Linked DNA regions of Homo sapiens: region 2 is linked to region 1. A link means that fine-mapping ties the variant in region 1 to the expression of a gene that starts in the linked region. Tissue or cell type: whole blood. Region 1 holds a variant in brackets; the other region holds the start of a gene. All regions are shown on one strand. Distances are between the middles of the regions.

Region 1 (10,908 bases):
TTCTTATTTTACACATAATAATTACATGTGTTTATGGGATATGGAGTGATAATTTGATTTCTGTACACAATGTGTAATGATCAAATCAGGGTAATTAGCATATCCATCACCTCAAACATTTATTATTTGTATTGTGAACATTCAAAACCCTTCTAGCTTGTATTTATTTATTTATTTTTTATTTTTTTTGAGATGGAGTCTCACTCTATCACCCAGGCTGGAGTGCACTGGCGTGATCTCGGCTCACTGCAAGCTCTGCCTCCTGGGTTCACACCATTCTCCTGTCTCAGCCTCCCGAGTAGCTGGGACTACAGGTGCCCGCCACCATGCCCACCTAATTTTTTTTTTTTTTTGTATTTTTAGTAGAGACGGGGTTTCAGTGTCAGCCAGGATGGTCTCGATCTCCTGACCTCATGATCCCCCTGCCTCAGCCTCCCAAAATGCTGGGATTACAGGCGTGAGCCACCGCGCCCGGCCTATTTATTTATTTTAGAGACAGGGTCTCACTCTGTTGCCCAGGCTGGAGTGCAGTGGCGCAATTACAGCTCACTGCAGCCTCGACCTCCTGGGCTCATGGGCTCAGGTGATCCTCCCGCCTCAGCCTCCTGAGTAGCTGGGACTACAGGTGGGTGCCACCACATCTGGCTATTTTTGTATTTTGTTTTTTAGATATTATACATATAATATTTATGTAATTTTTTTAAGTAAAAAAATTTTTTTTGGAGACAGAAAGTCACTCTGTTGCACAGGCTGGACTGTAGTGGCACAATCTCGGCTCATTGCAACCTTCACCTCCTGGGTTCAAGCGATTCTCCTGCCTCAGCCTCCTGAGTAGCTGGAATTACAGGTGCACAACACCACGCCAGCCATGTATGTATATCCTTTTGCCATTATCGTATACCACACTGTTTTAATTACTATTGCTTTTTAAAATTTTTTTGAAATCCAGGCCGGGTGCAGTGGCTCCATCTGTAATCCCAGCACTTTGGGAGGCCGAGGCAGGTAGATCATCCGAGGTCAGGAGTTTGAGACCAGCCTGGCCAACATAGCAAAACCCCATCTCTACTAAAAATACAAAAATTAGCCAGGCATGGTGGTGGGCACCTGTAATCCCAGCTACTCGGGAGGCTGAGCAGGAGAATTGCTTGAACCTGGGAAGTGGAGGTTGTGGTGAGCCGAGATCATGCCACTGCACTCCAACCTGGGTGACAGAGTGAGACTCCGTCTCAAAAAAAAAAAAAAATTGAAATCCAGAAGTGTGAGTCCTCCACTGTTCTTTATTTTGGCTATTTGGGGTGTCTTGAAATTCCATACAACTCTAAGAGTTGGTTTCTCCATTTCTGCAAAAAATTGTCATTGAGTATTTTATTGATATTGCATTGAATATGTATATATTGCTTTGGGTAATATTGTTATCTTTGAAATTTTATTTAAAAAAATAATACAGAGATGGGATCTTGCCATGTTGCCAAGGCTGGTCTGGAACTCCTGGGCTCAAGCAAACCTCCTCCCTCAGCCTCCCCAAGTGCTAGGATTACAAGCATGAGCCACCGTGCCCAGCCATCATCTTAACAATATTAAATCTTCCAATTCAGGACCATGAAATATCCTTTCATTCCCAGCACTTTGGGAGGCCAAGGCGGGTGAATCACCTGAGGTCAGGAGTTCAAGACCAGCCTGGTCAACATGGCGAAACCCTGGCTCTACTAAAAATACAAAAATTAGCTGGGCATGGTGGCAGGTGCCTGTAGTCCCAGCTACTCAGGAGGCTAAGGCAGGAGTCTCTTGAACCGGGGAGGTGGAGGTTGCGGTGAACTGAGAGTGCACCACTGCACTCCAGCCTGGGCGACAGAGTGAGACTCCGTCTCAAAAACAAAAAAAAACCCTTCCATTTATTTAGGTTTTTTAAAAAAATTATTCTACAACTTCAACTGTTTTGTAGCTTTTGCGTACAACTCATGTACCTCCTTTTTTTTTTTTTTTTTTGAGACAGAGTTTCACTCTTGTTGTCCAGGCTGGAGTGCAATGGGGCGTATTCTCGGTTCACTGCAACCTCCGCCTCCCGGATTCAAGCAATTCTCCTGCCTCAGCCTCCCAAGTAGCTGGGATTACAGGCATCTGCCACCACACCCAGCTAATTTTGTATTTTTAATAGAGATGAGGTTTCCCCATGTTGGCCTGGTTGGTCTTGAACTCCAGACTTCAGGTGATCTGCCTGCCTCAGCCCCGCAAAGTGCTGGGATTACAGGCGTAAGCCACCAAGCCCGGCTCAATAATGACTTACTTTAGTAAAGCTCTTTGACTTCATGGTTACCCTTTACCCCATGGCTTTTACTGCTCTTTGTAGTTTTTTTTTTTTTTTTTTTTGAGAGAGTCTCACTCTGTCGCCCGGGCTGGAGTGAAGTGGTACACCCTCGGCTCACAGCAACCTCCGCCTCCTGAGTTCAAGCGATTCTCCTGCCTTAGCCTCTTGAGTAGCTGGGATCACAGGCATGCGCCACCTTGCCCGGCTAATTTTTGTATTTTTAGTAGAGACGGGGTTTCACCATGTTGGTCAGGCTGGTCTCAAACTCCTGACCTGAGGTGATCCGTCCACCTCAGCCTCCCCAAGTGCTAGGATTACAGGTGTGAGCCACTGTACCCGCCCTGTTTTTTTTTTGTTGTTGTTGTTACTGCTCTTTGTAGGGTTTTTGTTTGTTTTGTTTGTTTTTTTGTCATTATCCAGGCTGGAATCCAGTGATGCAATCATCACTCACTGTAGCCTCCACCTCCTGGGCTCAAGCAATCCTCCTGCCTCAGCCTCTTGAGTAGTTGGGACTACAAGTGAGCACCACCACACCTGGCTAATATTTTTATTTTTTGTAGAGACAGAATCCCACTATGTTGCCCAAGCTAGGGTAAACTTTATTATTATTATTATTTTTTTTTTTTTATGAGACGGAGTCTTGCTCTGCCGGCTAGGCTGGAGTGCAGTGGAGCGATATTGGCTCACTGCAACCTCTGCCTCCTGGGTTCCAGCGATTCTCCTGTCTCAGCCTCCTGAGTAGCTGAGATTACAGGCATGCGCTATCACACCTGGCTAATTTTTGTATTTTTAGTGGAGACGGAGTTTCACCATGTTGGCCATGCTGGTCTTGAACTCCTGACCTCAGGTGATCTGCCCACCTCGGCTTCCTAAAGTACTAGGAGTATAGGCATGAACCACTGTACCGTCTCCACTAAAAATACAAAAATTAGCCACTCTGTAGCTCAGGTTGGAGTGCAGCGAGGCGATCTCAGCTCACCGTAGCCTCCTGGGTTCAAGCCATTCTCCTGCCTCAGCCTCCTGAGTAGCTGGGATTACAGGCGTGGGTCACCACGCCTGGCTAATTTTTGTATTTTTAGTAGAGACAGGGTTTCACTAAGTTGGCCATGCTGGTTTTTAACTGCTGACCTCAGTTGATCTGCCTGCCTAGGCCTCCCAAAGTGCTGGGATTACAGGCATGGGCCACTGCGCCTGGCCACCTCCGGGATTTTTTTTTTTTTTTTTTTTTGAGATGGAGTCTTGCTCTGTCTCAAAAAAGTGCACTGGCTGGATCTCAGCTCACCGCAACCTCCGCCTGCCCGGTTCAAGTGATTCTCCTGCCTCAGCCTCCCGAGTAGCTGAGATTGCAGGTGTGCACCATTGTGCCGGGCTAATTTTTGCATTTTTAGTAGAGACAGGTTTTCACTGTGTTGGCCAGGCTGGTCTCAAACTCCCGACCTCAAGTGATCCACTCGCCTCAGCCTCCCGAAGTGCTGAGATTACAGGCGTGAGCCACCGCGTTGGCCCACCTCTGGGCTTTTTATATAAACTTTGGATTTTGCTCCTTGAGCCAAGAGTCCTGCCTGACACACATTCTTCCCATATTTCCTTCTGGGAACTAACCCTGTCCACCCAGGCTGTCTTCCTGTGCCTTGGCTGTGTCCTGTAAGGCCAGGCCAGTGCTGCCTTTCTGCACAGCCTCCTCGTTTCTCAGTATTCTCCCTACCCCTACTCCCACATTCCTCCAGCCTCCTCTCACTGTCTTCCACCTGCTTCTCCTCTTCACACTCCTTCCCCTGCCCTTCTCCTTACCCCACCCAGCTCCTCCTCTGTTTATGCGGGAATGCTGGGAAGAGCAGTGGCCCCACCATGCGTGTTGCTCTTGGTGGCAAGGAAGGGACCCTGGGCCCCTTCTGCTGAGGCTGGCGTAGGGTCCACAGGGGAAAGGGGCACTAAGCAGGACGGTGCCGCCTATGAGGTTGATTCCTAAGGGTACTGAAGCCTAGACCAGAAAGATACCCAGCTCTGAAACCTGGGTCTGGAACCCCTTCCCCAAACATGCTCCCTCACTTCCCCACCACCCCTGGAGAATCTGAATCCTTAACCTAATGCTGAGGTATTTGTAATCCGAGAACTAAGCAGCTTTGATTGAAACGTAACCCTACCCTTGAGGTAAATCAAACAAGCAGGACTTCAACCCTATATTCTGGATCCTTTGCCAACCTTTATAGGACACCCCTGAGCTCTAACCACACCACCATCCCCCGTGCCTAAGGCTCTCCTGCAGGATGTAGCGTCCGCCCTCCATCTCCGCAGCTGCTCTCAGGAGCACTCCAGTCCTCTCCCAGCCCCAAGGCCTCTCTCCAGGCCTCTATCCCTTCTCTCCCAGAATTCATCCCTGAGCTCTAGCCAGGCCCTCCCATGCCCATTAGCCACTCCTCTGCCCCGTCAAACTCACTCCCATGGGGTCTAGAGTCCTCCCCAATCCATATTCTCCGATTCCTACTATGGGCTCTGGTCCTTTCCCTAAGGTAATCCTACCCTCAGCCTAGGACCATCTTAAGATAGTTCAGGTCTCTCCCCTGAGTCTGTGTCC[G/T]CACCTCCCCCAGGACTCTGTCAGAGGTGTTTGAACCAGAGCGACTCCATTTTGAGTGCGGGCTAGGAAAATGAGGCTGAGACTTGCTGGGCTGCATTCTGAGAAATGTAGGCAATTCCGAGCCTCCAGATGTTTACGGTTAAGGGAACAAATTATTAACAGTTACTAAACAGACCCACACTTGGGAGTGTCCAGATATCCTGATATCTGGAGAACAAAGGCATTCCTAGTTTTGCTTTAAAGATAATATCAATTCTTGCAAAATAATGAAGAGAATGAATCCTTCATCACAAACCCTTGTAGCAGAGCACGTCTCCCCATATATGTGAGCATTGGACCTAGGGTGGATGCGTTCCTCCTAACGTCAGGAGCGTCCAACACTGTCTGTGGAGTAGCTGTCCTTTCGCCACTTTTTCTGTTTTTGAGATGGAGCCTCCCTCTGTCGCCCAGGCTGGAGTGCAGTGGTGTGATCTCAGCTCACTGCAACCTCTGCCTCCCGGGTTCAAGTGATTCTCCTGGCTCAGCCTCTCGAGTAGCTGGACTGCAGATGTGTGCCCACACACCTGGCTAATTTTGTATTTATAGTAGAGATGGGGTCTTGCCATGTTGGCCAGGCTGGTCTTGAACTCCCGACCTCAGGTGATCTACCCACCTCGGCCTCCCAAAGTGCTGGGATTACAGGCGTGAGCCACCGCACCTGGTCCCACCACTTTACTTTCTTAATAAAGTTGCTTTTGCTTTGCACTGAGGACTTGTCCTGAATTCTTTCTTGTGTGAGATCCAAGAACTCTCTCCTGGGGTCTGGATTGGCACCCCTTTCCTGTAACAACTCTACTCTGGGCCCTGACCCCGTCCCCAGGACCAGTCCGCTCACCTCCCTCCCGCGCTGTCCCTGCTGTGGGCACCGCTAGGGTTTAGCAGAGGTCCAGTCTGCTGGCGGGGTTCCTTCTTGAATAGGTCGTGTTTGAATATCCAACAAAGAGACCTGCTCATCTTTGATTTTATTAATATTTGATTGACAAATAATAATTGTATTATATTGATGGAGTACAATGTGATGTTCTGATACATGTATACAATGTGGAAGGATTAAATCAAGCTAATTAACATATCCATCACCTCGCTCCCTTATCCTCCTTCTTTGTGGTGAGACATCTGAAATCAGCCTTGTTATTGTGATTTAAATTTAATCATCCTGGTGACTGTCTAGAGTGACAGCACATTGTGGTTTTACTCTACAGTTCCTTGAGGAGCAATGACATTGAATACATTTTCACTTACTTATTGGCCATTTGGTGGTCTTCTGTTGAGACGTGCTGAAGTTTTCTCCCCTTTAAATTGATTTTTTTTTCAACTTGAGGGATTCTTTATATTTTCTATGAGAGTTCCTTTGTCAGGTGTACCTTAGAGCAAACATCTTCTTCCAGTCCTGTTTCTTGTCTTTTCCCTATCTTAACAGCATCATTTGATGAACAGAACTTTGTACTTTTGATGAAGTGTAACAACTTTTTATGTTTGCTGTGTTTTGTGTACTAAGAAATCATTGCGTAACCCACGGCTGTGCCAATAATCTCTTAATGTTTTCTTCTAGAAGACTCAATGGTCTTTTCCAGACTCATTGCACCCACAGGGAGTTTTCTTGTAAAAATTCACTAATGGCAACACAAATGGTAGTAATGATCATAAAAACAACAATAGTTATTATTTATTAAAATTACACAATATTCCAGTTACACTTTCAAAGACTTTACATGTACCAAACATTTAATTTCCATGATAGCAGTCTCAGGTAGATGTGATTATCCTTATGTACAAATAATGCACATAGTGTCTGTGTGCTGGACAACGCACAGGGGTAGTGAGCCTTTGGCCCAGTGTCTCACAGGGAGGAGGGCGGGGGATGGTGGGGACAACTGGTAGAGTGGGTGGCATGACCAAAGGCTTTCTCACGTGTTACATTAGCAGGGTTATTCCACAGATGCCACGGAGTAAAGACAGAATGGTACTGGTAGTCTTTATGTATTCATTAAACTAACCCACACAATAAAAACATCTACACCAAAAACAAGATCATTCAGAAAAAGTGATTTTTCCACTCTTCAAATTTGCCTCTAGAATGACTTCTGATATTCTGTAAGCAGAAGAGTGATCAGTGGGCTAGGTGCAGTGGCTCACGCCTGTAATCCTAGCACTTTGGGAGGGCAAGGTGGGTGGATCACCTGAGGTCAGGAGTTGAGACCAGCCTGGACAACATGGTGAAAACTGTCTCTACTAAAAATACAAAAATTAGCCAGGTGTGGTGGTGCATGTCTGTAATCCCAGCTACTGGGGAGGCTGAGGCAGGAGAATTGCTGGAACCTGGGAGGTGGAGGTTGCAGTGAGCCAAGACCGTGCCACTGCACTCCAGCCTGGGCAAGAGTGAGACTCTGTCTCAAAAAAACAAAAACAAAAACAAAAACAACAGTGATCAGTGAAGCCTTACGTTAAACTGTACCAGGAATTTTCCTCCTGTTGAGGAAGGAATGGATGTAGTCTAGAGGCCTTCCTATATTCTTTGTACAGCAGTCCCCTCTCACCTGAGGGGGGTACGTTTGAAGACCCGCAGTGGACACCTGAAACCACAGATAGTACGTTTTTTTCCTGTACATATATACGATACTATATACTACATTTTTTCCTGTACATACATATCTAAAGTTTAATTTATAAATTAGGCACAGTAAGAGATTACCAACAGTAACTAACAAAATAGAACAATTGTAACAATATATGTAATAAAATTATGTGAACGTATCTCTCTCCCAAAATATCTTATTGTCATGTAGATCTTAGCAACCTCAGTATATGATTTTTTTCTTTTCTTTTTTAAGTTGAGAACTTTCACCTTTTCATTTAAAAGGAAGCACTTTGTGGCTTCTCTTTGGCATATCCGAATCACCAGCATCACTACTCCTGCTCTCTGGGGCCACTGTTAAGCAAAGTGAGGACTGCTTGGGCACAGGCACTGTGATGCTGGGATAGTTGATCTGATCACCAAGACGGCTACTAAGTCACTAGCAGGGTGGGTGGCGTATACAGCGTGGATGTGCTGGACCAAGGGATGACTCACATCCCCGGCCGGCTGGAGCCGGACAGCGAGAGATTTCATCACGCTACTCAGAAGGGCACACCATTTGAGACTTAAAATTCTTTATTTCTGGAATTTTCCATTTAATATTTTTGAACTGCAGTTGACTGCAGGTAACAAACTGTGGAAAGCGAAACCATAGATACGAGCGGGCTACTGCGTTCAAAAGGCTCTTCAACTGTTGTGGATCCTCTGATGTTCTCGGAGATGGTTTAGGTGGTTACATGCCTTCCCGCACTCCTTACATTCGTAGGATTTCGCCCCACTGTGCGTTTTCTGATGTTGTGTAAGCTGATGGCCGTGACTAAAGCTCTTCCCACATTCTGTACACCCATAGGGTTTCACCCCGGTATGAATTCTCTCATGTTTCACGAGGCTCGATCCATAAATGAAAGCCTTCCCACACTCCTTACATTTATACGGGGTTTCGCCTGTGTGGATTCTCTCGTGCTGAGTGAGGTGATAGCCACAATTGAAGGCCTTCCCACATTCTGTGCACTTGTACGGCTTCTCGCCCGTATGTATCCTCTCGTGCTTAACGAGGCTCGAACCCCAGCGAAAGGCCTTCCCACACTCCTTACATTCGTGAGGCTTCTCACCGGTGTGGATCTTCTGATGCTGAGTAAGGTAATTGACTCGAGTAAAGGCCTTCCCACATTCTTGACATTCATAGGGTTTCTCACCTGTGTGAATTCTTTTATGCTGAATGAGGCTTGAACCACAAATAAAAGCCTTCCCACAGTCTTTACACTCGTAAGGCTTCTCCCCACTATGAATTCTCTTGTGCTGAATAAGTTTATACACACGGCTAAAGGTCTTCCCACAGTCTTTGCATTCGTAGTCTTTCTCCCCAGTGTGGAATCTCTGGTGCTGAGTGAGCTCATCACCACGCCGAAAGGCCTTTCCACAGTCTTTACATTCATAGGGTTTTTCACCAGTATGAATCCTCTTATGAATAACGAGGCTTGAGCCCCATCGAAAAGCCTTCCCACAGTCTTTACATTCGTAGGGCTTCTCCCCAGTATGAATTTTTTGATGTTGAGTAAGCTGATTGCCCCAACGGAAGGCCTTCTTACATTCTTTACATTCATAAGGTTTCTCACCAGTATGGATTTTCTGATGTTGACTAAGTTGATAGCCACGACTAAAGGCCTTCCCACAGTCCTTACATTCAAAGGAATTCTCCTTATGATGTCTCTGATGTGTTCTAGGAGGGGTGCCTTCTCTAGTAGCAGGTCTTTTGACATAATTGATGATCATCTGATTGACATACCTCCCTCTGGAGCGCTGTGGTCTTTCAAGCGTACCTTCACATATCCAGTTACGGCCAAGGGATTTACTTCTTCTATCTGAATTCCTTTTGGAAGCCCTTATTTCATGAATGTTTTTTTCTGTAGGTAAACTCTTATTTTCATATGCTGACTCCAAATCTGGGAAAAAAGAACATATTTTCTTTCCTTTAGAGGGACACAAGTACAAACGAACCTAACCACAAACCAAAAACTCGTCTAATAGAAATAAAAATTATCCAGTAGAATAAATGTGAATCACCCAGGGCTCTTGTTAAAATGTAGATTCTACTTCTGGTACAATACTAACTGAGAATTCATTGGAGACATCTATTTTAAAGTCAGACATGAAAAAGGTCCCGACAATTAGTCCTATTATTTCCTATTTTGAAGATGAAAACAAGTATTTGTAGATGATGTGATGATATACTTGGAAAACCAAATATAGAAGTACTGTAACAAAACAATATGCAGTTGGATGGCTGTGTGTAAAGCATTCTGAAACTGATACACGTATATGTCAGTAGTATTATTAAAAGTAACTGGTAAAGGGCCGGGAGTGGTGGCTCATCACGCCTGTAATCCCAGCACTTTGGGAGGCCAAGGCAGGCAGATCACCTGAGGTCGGGAGTCCGAGACCAGCTTGACCAACATGGAGAAACCTTGTCTCTACTAAAAATACAAAATTAGCCGGACATGGTGGCGCATGACTGTAATCCCAGCTACTCGGGAGGCTGAGGCAGGGAAATTGCTTGAACCTGGGAAGCAGAGGTTGCAGTGAGCCGAGATCATGCCATTGCACTGTAGCCTGGGCAACAAGCATGAAACTCTGTCTCAAAACAAAAACAAAAAAACAGACTGGGCACGGTGGCTCACGCTTGTAATCCCAGCACTTTGGGAGGCCGAGGTGGGCAGATCATGAAGTCAGGAGTTCGAGACCAGCCTGGCCAACACGGTGAAATCCTGTCTCTACTAAAAATACAAACATTAGCTGGGCATGGTGGTGGGTGCCTGTAATCCCAGCTACTCCGGAGGCTGAGGCAGGAGAATCGCTTGAACCCGGGAGGCAGAAGTTGCGGTGAGCCGAGATTGTGCCACTGCACTCCAGCCTGGGTGACAGAGCTAGACTCCATATCAAAAAAACAAAAAACAAAAAACAAAAACAAACAAACCCTGTCTGTACTAAAAACGCAAAAATTAGCCAGGCATGGTGGTGTGAGCCTATAATCCCAGCTACTTGGGAGGCTGAGGCAGGAGAATCGCTTGAACCCGGGAGGTGGAGGTTGCAGTGAGCCGACTGAATAAGACTCCGTCTCAAAAAAAAAAAAAAAAAAAAAAGCAACTGGGTAAAAGAATACAACATTCAAAAGCAACAAAAAAGATAATTTACGAGACTAAATTTAATAAAAAATGTGAAAAAGTTTAGAAGAACAATAAGGAAAAGTTTAGAACTTGAGCATCAATAAGGAGGCTAACTGCAAAGGACTGAGAAACAGCAAACGTTTAAATCTATAAGTTCATAATGATACTACAAAATGTTAAATGGCCAGCTCTGGAACACGCTAGGAAACCAGACCTTTATTATAAAAACTGGCAATTGGCTAGGTGCAGT
Region 2 (8,896 bases), 41 kb after region 1:
CAATCTCCTTGCTTTTTTTCTTTAAAAAAAGTTTTTCTTTTTATAGTTTTTATTTTTAAAAAATTCATAATAAGGCTGGGCGTGGTGGCTCATGCCTGTAATCCCAGCACTTTGGGAGGCCAAGGCAGGCGGATCGGATCACGAGGTCAGGAGTTTGAGACCAGCCTGGCCAACGTGGTGAAACCCCGTCTCTACTAAAGATACAAAAAACTAGCTGGGCATGGTGGTGCGCGCTTGTAATCCCAGCTACTCAGGAGGTTGAGGCAGGAGGATTGCTTGAACTGGAAGGTGGAGGTTCAGTGAACCAAGATTGCACCATTACACTCCAGCCTGGGAGACAGGGCGAGACTCCGTCTCAAAAAAATAAAAAAATTCATAATAGAGACAGGGTCTCACCATGTTGCCCAGGTTGGTCTTGAACTTGTGGGCTCAAGCGATCCTCCTGCCTCACAGCCTGCCAAAGTGCTTTGGATTACAGGTGTGAGCCACCATGCCTGGCCCCCTCCTTTTTTTTCTAATGGTAAAATGTGCCACTGGGCGCGGTGGCTCATGCCTGTAATCCCAGCACTTTCGGAGGCTGAGGCAGGTGGATCACCTGAGGTCGGGAGTTCAAGACCAGCCTGACCAACATGGAAAAACCCTGTCTCTACTAAAAATACAAAATTAGCTGGGCGTGGTGGCACTTGCCTGTAATCTCAGCTACTTAAGAGGCTGAAGCAGGAGAATCGCTTGAACCCGGGAGGCAGAGGTTGCGGTGAGCCGCGATTGCGCCATTGCACTCCAGCCTAGGCAACCAGAGCGAAACTCTGTCTCAAGAAAAACAAAAGTGCCTTCCTTGAACCCGCTGTCTGCGTAATCAATATTAACCAAAAATAACATTCAGAGTCTGATGTTAAGAATGAAATTCATTTTGTTTAACAAAATGAATACATTAGCAAAAGAGATTCTAAGAAATATAACGAGGAAATGTTCCCTTTCCATCAGCAACTAGGGGGACAGAGACATTGTTCTGCATAAGAAAATCTAATTTAATGACTCTAATCTGAGAAGATGCCAAGTTGAGAACATTAGCAAGAGGCTGAATTTTGTGTTCCACGGGATAAGGGAGATACATATGAGATACTGTCATCTAATTCTTTTTCTATCTTGGAAATGTTACTTATACAGCCCATATTTGTTACTTGTACAAATAATCTTGCTAATGTCACATGGAAAGTCCGTATCTGCAAGGCACCCAGTGATTAGTGTTCATGGGTGATTATTGTGATGTCCTGGGAAAGGAACATTAACATTCTATAATCTAATTCTAAAAGGCTGTCTTTCTTGAAAATTTGTTACCATAGGTTAGATTCAGATGATGGATTTCTAATCCTACAAGGTAGAAATATGTGAGATATTTCAAAACAAGGCAAAGATCACTGGCATAGCCCTTCCCCTCCCAACACACACACAGGTGTAATGCGACTCATGGCTGGGTTGGATTCCTTTTATAAATTAAGATTTGGAGTCTCTGACTCATTTATGATGAATTAGCAAGATTCAATACTCCAAAAACAAAACACACACATGCTTAGAGGCAAAGAAGAGGCCTAGAAACATAAATACCATTTCAGATGTTTTTTTCTTGTTTTTTTTTTTGAGACACTGTCTCCCTTTGTTGCCCAGGCTAGAGTGCAATGGCTCACTGCAGCCTGGAACCCCTAAGCCCAAGTGATCCTCCCACAGCAGCCTTCTGAGTAGCTGAAACTATAGGTATGCATCACCATGCCTGGCTAATCTTTTTCAATTTTTTATTTTAGTAGAGATGGAGTCTCACTGTTGCCCAGGCTGGTCTCAGACTCCTGGCCTCAAGTGATCATCCCGCTTTGGCCTCCCAAAGTGCTGGCCATTTAAAATGTTCATCAGTGATTATCTCTGGATGGTACAATTATGGGTAATTTGGAGATTCTTCTTTAAGGGCTCCTTAGGGACTGTTTCTTTCTTTGCCCCCAGCAGGCCTGCATTAATCCTATTATAAGAAATATAACAAGATAGGAGCAGGGTACAGTGGCTGGTGCCTGTAATCCCAGGTACTTGAGAGGCCGAGGTGGGAAGACCACTTTAGCCCAGGAGATTGAGGCTGCTGTGAACTATTATCAACCCACTGCACTCCAGCATGGGCAACAGAACACAACCTTGTCTATAAGGAAAAAACAAAACAAAACAAAACAAAAACACATAAAAGAAGAAATATAGGCCGGGCACGGTGGCTCACGCCTGTAATCCCAGCACTTTGGGAGGCCGAGGCAGGCAGAGCACCTGAGGTCGGGAGCTCGAGACCAGCCTGACCAACAAAAGAGAAACCCCGTCTCTACTAAAAATACAAAATTAGCTGGGTGTGGTGGCGCATGCCTGTAATCCAAGCTACTCAGGAGACTGAGGCAGGAATTGCTTGAACCCAGGAGGCAGAGGTTACGGCGAGCTGAGATCACGCCATTGCACTCCAGCCTGGGCAACAAGAGCGAAACTCTGTCTCAAAAAAAAAAAAAAGAAAAGAAATATGATTATTGTTCTCTCGTTGCCTCTCTCAAACATGTCAATATGGTAATGCTGGCACCTATGATGATATTACCTTACATGGCAAAGGGGAATTAAGGTTGCAGGCGGACTAAAATTGCTAATGGGCTGACACTAAAATAGGGAAGATTATCCTGAGTTACCTCAGCGGGCCTAATGTAATCACCAGGGTCCTCAAAATGAGAAGAGGGTGAGATGAACAGAAAGAAGTAGGGTCAGAGTGACGTGATGGAAAAGGGACTTGGCCTGTCTTTGCAGCTTTGATGATGGAAGAAGGGGTCACAAACCAAGGCATGTGGGGCAGTGTCTAGAAGCCAGCAAAAGCAAGGACATAAAATACCTCCCACAGGGCAGGCTCGGTGGCTCACACCTGTAATCCCGCACTTTGGGAGGCTGAGGCCGGCTAATTAATCACCTGAGGTCAGGAGTTCGAGACCAGCCTGATCAACAAGGAGAAACCCTGTTTCCACTAAAAATACAAAAATTAGCTGCGGATGGTGACATGTGCCTGTAATCCCAGCTACTCGGGAGGCTGAGGCGGGAGAATCACTTGAATCTGGGAGGTGGAGGTTGCAGTGAGCCAAGATTGTGCCACTGCGCTCCAGCATGGGCAACAGAGCAAGCCTCCATCTCAATTACAGAAAAAAAAAGACTATCTCCTAGAGCCTCCAAGCACACACACCTCCTAGAGCTCTGCCAAAGAGCCTCCAAGCACACACATGTCCTCCGTGAGAGGACACAGCAAGATGGTGACAGTCTCCAACCTGGAAAAGGGCCCTCATCAGAACCTGACCATGCTGGTACCCTCTTCTCAGACTTCCAGCCTCCAGAACTGTGAGCAATAAATGTTTGTGGTTTCAGCCACCGGTCTATGGTACTTTGTTACAGACTAAGGTAAGAATAAATTAAGGAGTGTGTGCAAAACACAATAGAGTATGGTACAAAAATGCGCTCAATAAATGTGGCCAGGCTCCTCTCTTTTGAAGGATTCATGAATAATCCTAAATAATATACTAAAATGTCATGTTGGATAAGGTATTTACAAAAATCTTATTCAATGGAATTTGTAGGCAACTGAAGCATTTCCTTCATTTACTATTGTTAATAACTATTAGTAGTGTTTAATATTATGTCAGGTGCATTTTTCTTTCTTACGGTTATAACTAAACTTACTTCTTTGTAGCTGCAGAGTATTCCATGAAATGAACGTGGTATAATTACTTAACCATTTCCACCATCCTGAACAATAATTGTGGTCAAGGTACACAGCCTTCGATTGTAGACCAATGGGTCTAAATGTCTTTGGGGCATGTCCATCCTTCTTAATGCCATGAAATTACAGAGTATCTCCTTAGGGTGGTGGTGGTGGGGGACAGATACACTAACACTGATAATCACATACAGTAAATATACACAGAATGTCCCTTGGAAAGTTGTAAGTGGAGTTAAAGGCAGGCCCTCAGGTTAAGGATAACAGTTCTAGGCCATTTGAGGCTGTGGTTCATTTTGTGAACCTGCAAACACCCATCCCAGTTACCTTCATATGTACGTTGCTCCTGATGTACAGACATCCAGACTTAGCACAAAACAGCAGCACTCACTGTGCACTCCCACTCAGGGGTGCGCGTCTATGGGTTTTATGCGTGTTAATGCATTTCACCCTCCTCACAAGCCTATCTTCAGAAGGCTCAAAAAGCTAAGAGGCAGAAACAGGACTCAAATCTTGGTCATCTACCTTTAATGTTTGGTCTTAAGTCTTATAAACACATATCATTTAATATAAAAAAAAAAGGATACTCACCTGACCCTTTCAGATGTTTAACGATTCGTCTTCCTCCTCGGGGATGCTTTTTCTGAAGGATGCTGGCCTGGGGAAAACAGAACCGGAAGGGTAACACCTGCCATACCTAATAAAACCAATGAGAAATACGAGGCCCCGAGATGGAGTTTCTGGGAGATTCCTGAAGAGCACGCTGTGGCGATTGAGATGATGACGCGTGGAGCTGCCCCCCTCCCTGTCTCCCACATCAGGGACCTGTCCCTCTACAGGAGGAATTCTACTCCTGAGGCCACCGTCCCCTGTCACTCAGGTGGCCTGCATGCACAGCACTTCTGGCTCTGAAAGCGTCACCTCATGGCTGTTTCTGCCTTCTTGCTGGTGAATTTCCAGGCGAGGCTCAGGCGCTCACGTCCCTCCGCGGCCCTTGTTCTCAGGCAGGTACCGCTTGGTTAGGAGGTGAAGGCAGGGGAAGCAGCAGAGACGCTGGAGCTACAAGTTGCACTGTCACACACACCTGCATCACTCAGAAGGCCCGATCATCCATCCCAGCACAGAGACGCTGAAGCTACAGGTTGTGTTGTCACACACACCTGCGTCACCCAGAAGGCCCGATCACCCATCCCAGCACAAGTCTGCACAGCTCAGCCTCACCACAGCTCACTCTGTCCTGAGACACATCTGCGCCCCTCATACCCACTAACGCCCAGCACGGCCATGCTACGGGCCCCACCACCCCACACGGTGCAGAGGTGCATCCGTGGGCCACGGAGACCCGTCCCGACCGCTGCCCCCGCACAACCCCCAGAGCGCACCTCACGGAGCAGAGTCCCAGGGACGCACCGCCGAGGTTCACAGGCACGGGCTGCGTTGACCCAAAGCCTCTGGAGCACCCCCGGTCACCAGTTATGGGGAGAGCCCGGCTGTGTCACCCCACACTCTCCAGCAAGTGCGTCACCGTCAGAAGCCCCGTGCCCGTCTCCCCTCGGAGCCACGCGCACCAATCTCACCTGCGCGGACTGGCGGAGATGCAGCGGCTGCGTCACTGGTGCAAACGCGCACCCAGCACGGCCCCCATCGCCCCCAATGACGCTCGCGTGCACCCGTGTCACAGTTACGGGGACAGGGCCGCCGCGTCAGCCTCGTACTCCCACGCAAGTGCGTCACACACTCGGTCCCGCCACCCCCTGGAGGCCAGCGCGCATGCGCACGCGCACCCAGCGGCCGCAGCGCGCAGACAGCAGCAGAGCCCGACACGCATGTGCACACAGACCCCTACACGTATGTGCACGTACCCAGACCCCGACACGTATGTGAGCGTACACAGACCCCCGATACATAGCGTGCTCAGCTGTTGACGTGCCTGTGCGGGCACACAGACCCTGACGGGCGTGTGCGCACGCACAGATGCCGACACGCATGTGCAGACACAACAGAGCCCGACACACACGTGCGCCTGCACAGATGCTGACACGCGGACACACTGACACGTGTGCGTGCACCCCTCCCATCCCTTTCCCTCCTCCCACTCTCCCAAAGCCGCAGACGCACCCGGTAGTCCCCCAACGCTGGGGCCTCGGGAGAGGGTGAGGCTAGAAGAGGACGCGGGGCCGTCGGGGGAAACCAGAGCCCCAAGCCCCGTGTTCCAGCATGCAGCACGGCGTACTCCTGGATGGTCTCTGGGAAATGTAGTCCGGGACGGTCCCAGGCAGGGGCCTCAGGGCGCGTCCCAGGTCGGTGCCGGAGCGGGCAGCCCCAAGCTAAGCCCTTCCTGGTCCCTGCAGACGCCCCTTCCCGACTGGGAAAGGAGCTGTGTCACCCCAGCTGGGACCCCGTCTGGCCTCTTGAGTGGGGTGATGCCGGGCGAGCCATGGCTGTCCTCAGAAGGGTATCCTCTCCTAGCCCCTCTGGAGCGTCACCTGGAATTCTCTGCAGGCCGCTAGCACAGGCTGCCGGAGCTGCTATTCGGTGTCCCTTGCTTGCTGCATTGTAAACAATGTACAGGTAGCAGTTATGCCCCGTGAGTCCCGCTCTCATTCCAAGTACTAACGTCACAGGGTCTACAGGATGTTGCAGGTACTTAACCACAGTCTCATTTTGACTCAAAATCCCACTTTTTGGTATTTATGCCAAGGAAGTAGCTATAGTTGTACACAATGTTGAAGTATGTTCACAAAATGCTTTTTTTCTGAAAATCTTTTTCTCTTTTAATTAGATAGACTTTAGATTCATATGTAGTTACAAGAAATAAAATTGAGAGATCTTGTGTACCTTTCACCTGGTTACCTCAGCTGGTGATTGTAGTATATAATACCACAACCAGAAGATTAACATTGATGTAATCCACTGACGTTACCCAGAATTTCCAGAGAATAATTTTTTGTTTGTTTGTTTGTTTGTTTTGAGACGGAGTTTCGCTCTTGTTGCCCAGGCTCAAGTGCAATGGTGCGATCTCGGCTCACTGCAACCTCCGCCTCCTGGGTTCAAGGGGTTCTCCTGCGTCAGCCTCCCCAGTAGCTGGGATGACAGGCATGCGCTACCACGCCCGGCTAATTTTTTTTGTATTTTTAGAAGAGACGGGGTTTCTCTATGTTGGTCAGGCTGGACTCGAACTCCCGACCTCAGGTGATCCGCCTGCCTCGGCCTCACAAAGTGCAGGAATTACAGGCGTGAGCCACCACACCCAGTCGAGAATAATTTTTAAAAATGAAAATCTTGCAGTGGAGGATAAAGGAAAATCAGATTAAACCATGGTCTGTTATACAATGACATAGAGTACATTTCCTAATAATACTGACTCATTAATTAAGAAAACTTCTGAAGAATCAACAAGGGAAAAGGGTAGGTTAAAATGGTACATATAATTTGAGCAGACATGTTTTGGTGAAATTAACACAGGCTCTGTGGTCTGATTTGAGGGTGTTAATCTGAGCTCTGATAGTTATTAACTTCACAGTGTGGTAAAGTTTCCTCACTGGTAAAACCACAAGAAAGATAGTACAATGTATGACTGTTTGAACAGGATCATCCACATGAAACACACAGTCATATATAACAATTAAGATAAGGTAGCTGTTATTACTAAAAAATCAGTAACATATCTCAATCCATTTTCATAAAAGTAACAAGTCTGCTATTTCCTTTTAACTAGGGAGACAGAGACATGATAGTTCCTTAAAAAATCTAGTTTAAAGATTCTTATCAGCTAGGTGCAGTGGCTCACACCTGTAATCCCAGCACTTTGGGAAGCCAAGGTGAGCGGATCACTTGAGGTCAGAAGTTCAAGACCAACCTGGGCAACATGGTGAAACCCTGTCTCTACTGAAAATACAAAAATTAGCCGGGCATGGTGGTGAGATTGTAATCTCAGTTTCTCAGGAGGCTGAGTCAGGAGATTCGCTTGAACCTGGGAGGCAGAGGTTGTAGTGAGCCAAGATTGCGCCACTGCACTCCAGCCTGGGTGACAGAGTAAGACTTCATCTCAAAAAAGAAAAAAAAAAAAAAAGTGAACATTTTAAACTAGTGCTATCTCATTCTATTTCATATACCTTTGAAATGTTACAGTCAATATTCGTTACTTGCACATATAACCTTGGGAATATTTCCAAAGTCCATATTTGTAAGGTATCCAGTGACTATTTTCATATTCATCAATGATTAATTTTTCAAAGCAAGGAAACATGACTGGTATCTCTCTTCTCTCCACATGCACACAGACATAATGTGACCCGTGGTTGGGCTGGATTTCTTTTACAAACTATGATTTGGAGAGTTTTTGCCTCATTTACATGATTAATAGGATTCAATGTTCCAGAAACAAAACACACACATGCTTAGAGGTGGAGGGGAAGACAGTAAACATACATACTAAGTGTTAACAGTAATTATCTTTAGATGGTATAAATATGGGTAATTACGGCCGGACAGTGGCTTACACCTGTAACCCCAGCACTTTGAGAGGCCAAGGCAGGTGGATCACTGGAGGCCAGGAGTTCGAGACCAGCCTTGGCCAACATGGCGAAACCCCATCTCTACTAAAAATACAAAAATTAGCTGAATGTGTGGCAGACACCTGTAATCCCAGCTACTCAGGAGGCTGAGGCAGATCTCTTGAACCCGGGAGGCAGAGGTTGCAGTGAGCCGAGCTTGTACCATTGCACTCCAGCCTGGGCAACAAAAGCAAGACTCTGTCTTAATAAATAAATAGATAAATAAATAAATAAGGGTAATTTTTAGTTTCCTCTTTGTGTGCTTCTTAGGGGAATAATTTTTTTTTTTTTTTTTTTTTGGTTACAGGCTTTCATTAATCCCATTATAAAGTATATAATTATAGGGAGCCCCAAATTTAAAAAAAGATTAGTAAGGAAAACAGACCATTGTTATAGGGGAGTGGGTACATTCTAGCTATTCAGGAAAGTTTGATGGACAGGCCTGTTACTGGCAGAATATATCCACATCCTACATCTGGAACCTGGGAATATGTTATGTTACAAGGCAAGATAAAGAAGGTTGCAGATGGACTTAAATTGCTAACCAGCCACCCTTCAGATACGGAGATTACCC

Evidence for each region. PIP is the estimated chance that this variant, and not a neighbour inherited with it, causes the effect. A credible set is the group of variants that fine-mapping cannot tell apart.
Region 2: ZNF331 starts here. The variant in region 1 is the best candidate, but not a certain one, in a credible set for the expression of ZNF331 in whole blood (INTERVAL, PIP 0.66).

What each region holds. Positions count from the first base shown.
Region 1 is chr19:53,575,226-53,586,133 of GRCh38, reverse strand. ZNF331 (zinc finger protein 331) reads right to left here. Exons shown (of 6, transcript NM_001079906.2): 6 at 5,865-9,437. The coding sequence ends at 8,182. Among named protein-coding and RNA genes, the nearest start is that of ZNF331, 43 kb to the right of the region's middle. RefSeq lists an enhancer at 8,079-9,278. The variant G/T (reference allele first, on the strand shown) is at 4,881.
Region 2 is chr19:53,534,744-53,543,639 of GRCh38, reverse strand. It overlaps ZNF331 (zinc finger protein 331), which reads right to left and starts at 5,495. Exons shown (of 6, transcript NM_001079906.2): 1 at 5,344-5,495; 2 at 4,358-4,424. RefSeq lists enhancers at 5,416-5,465, 5,251-5,767.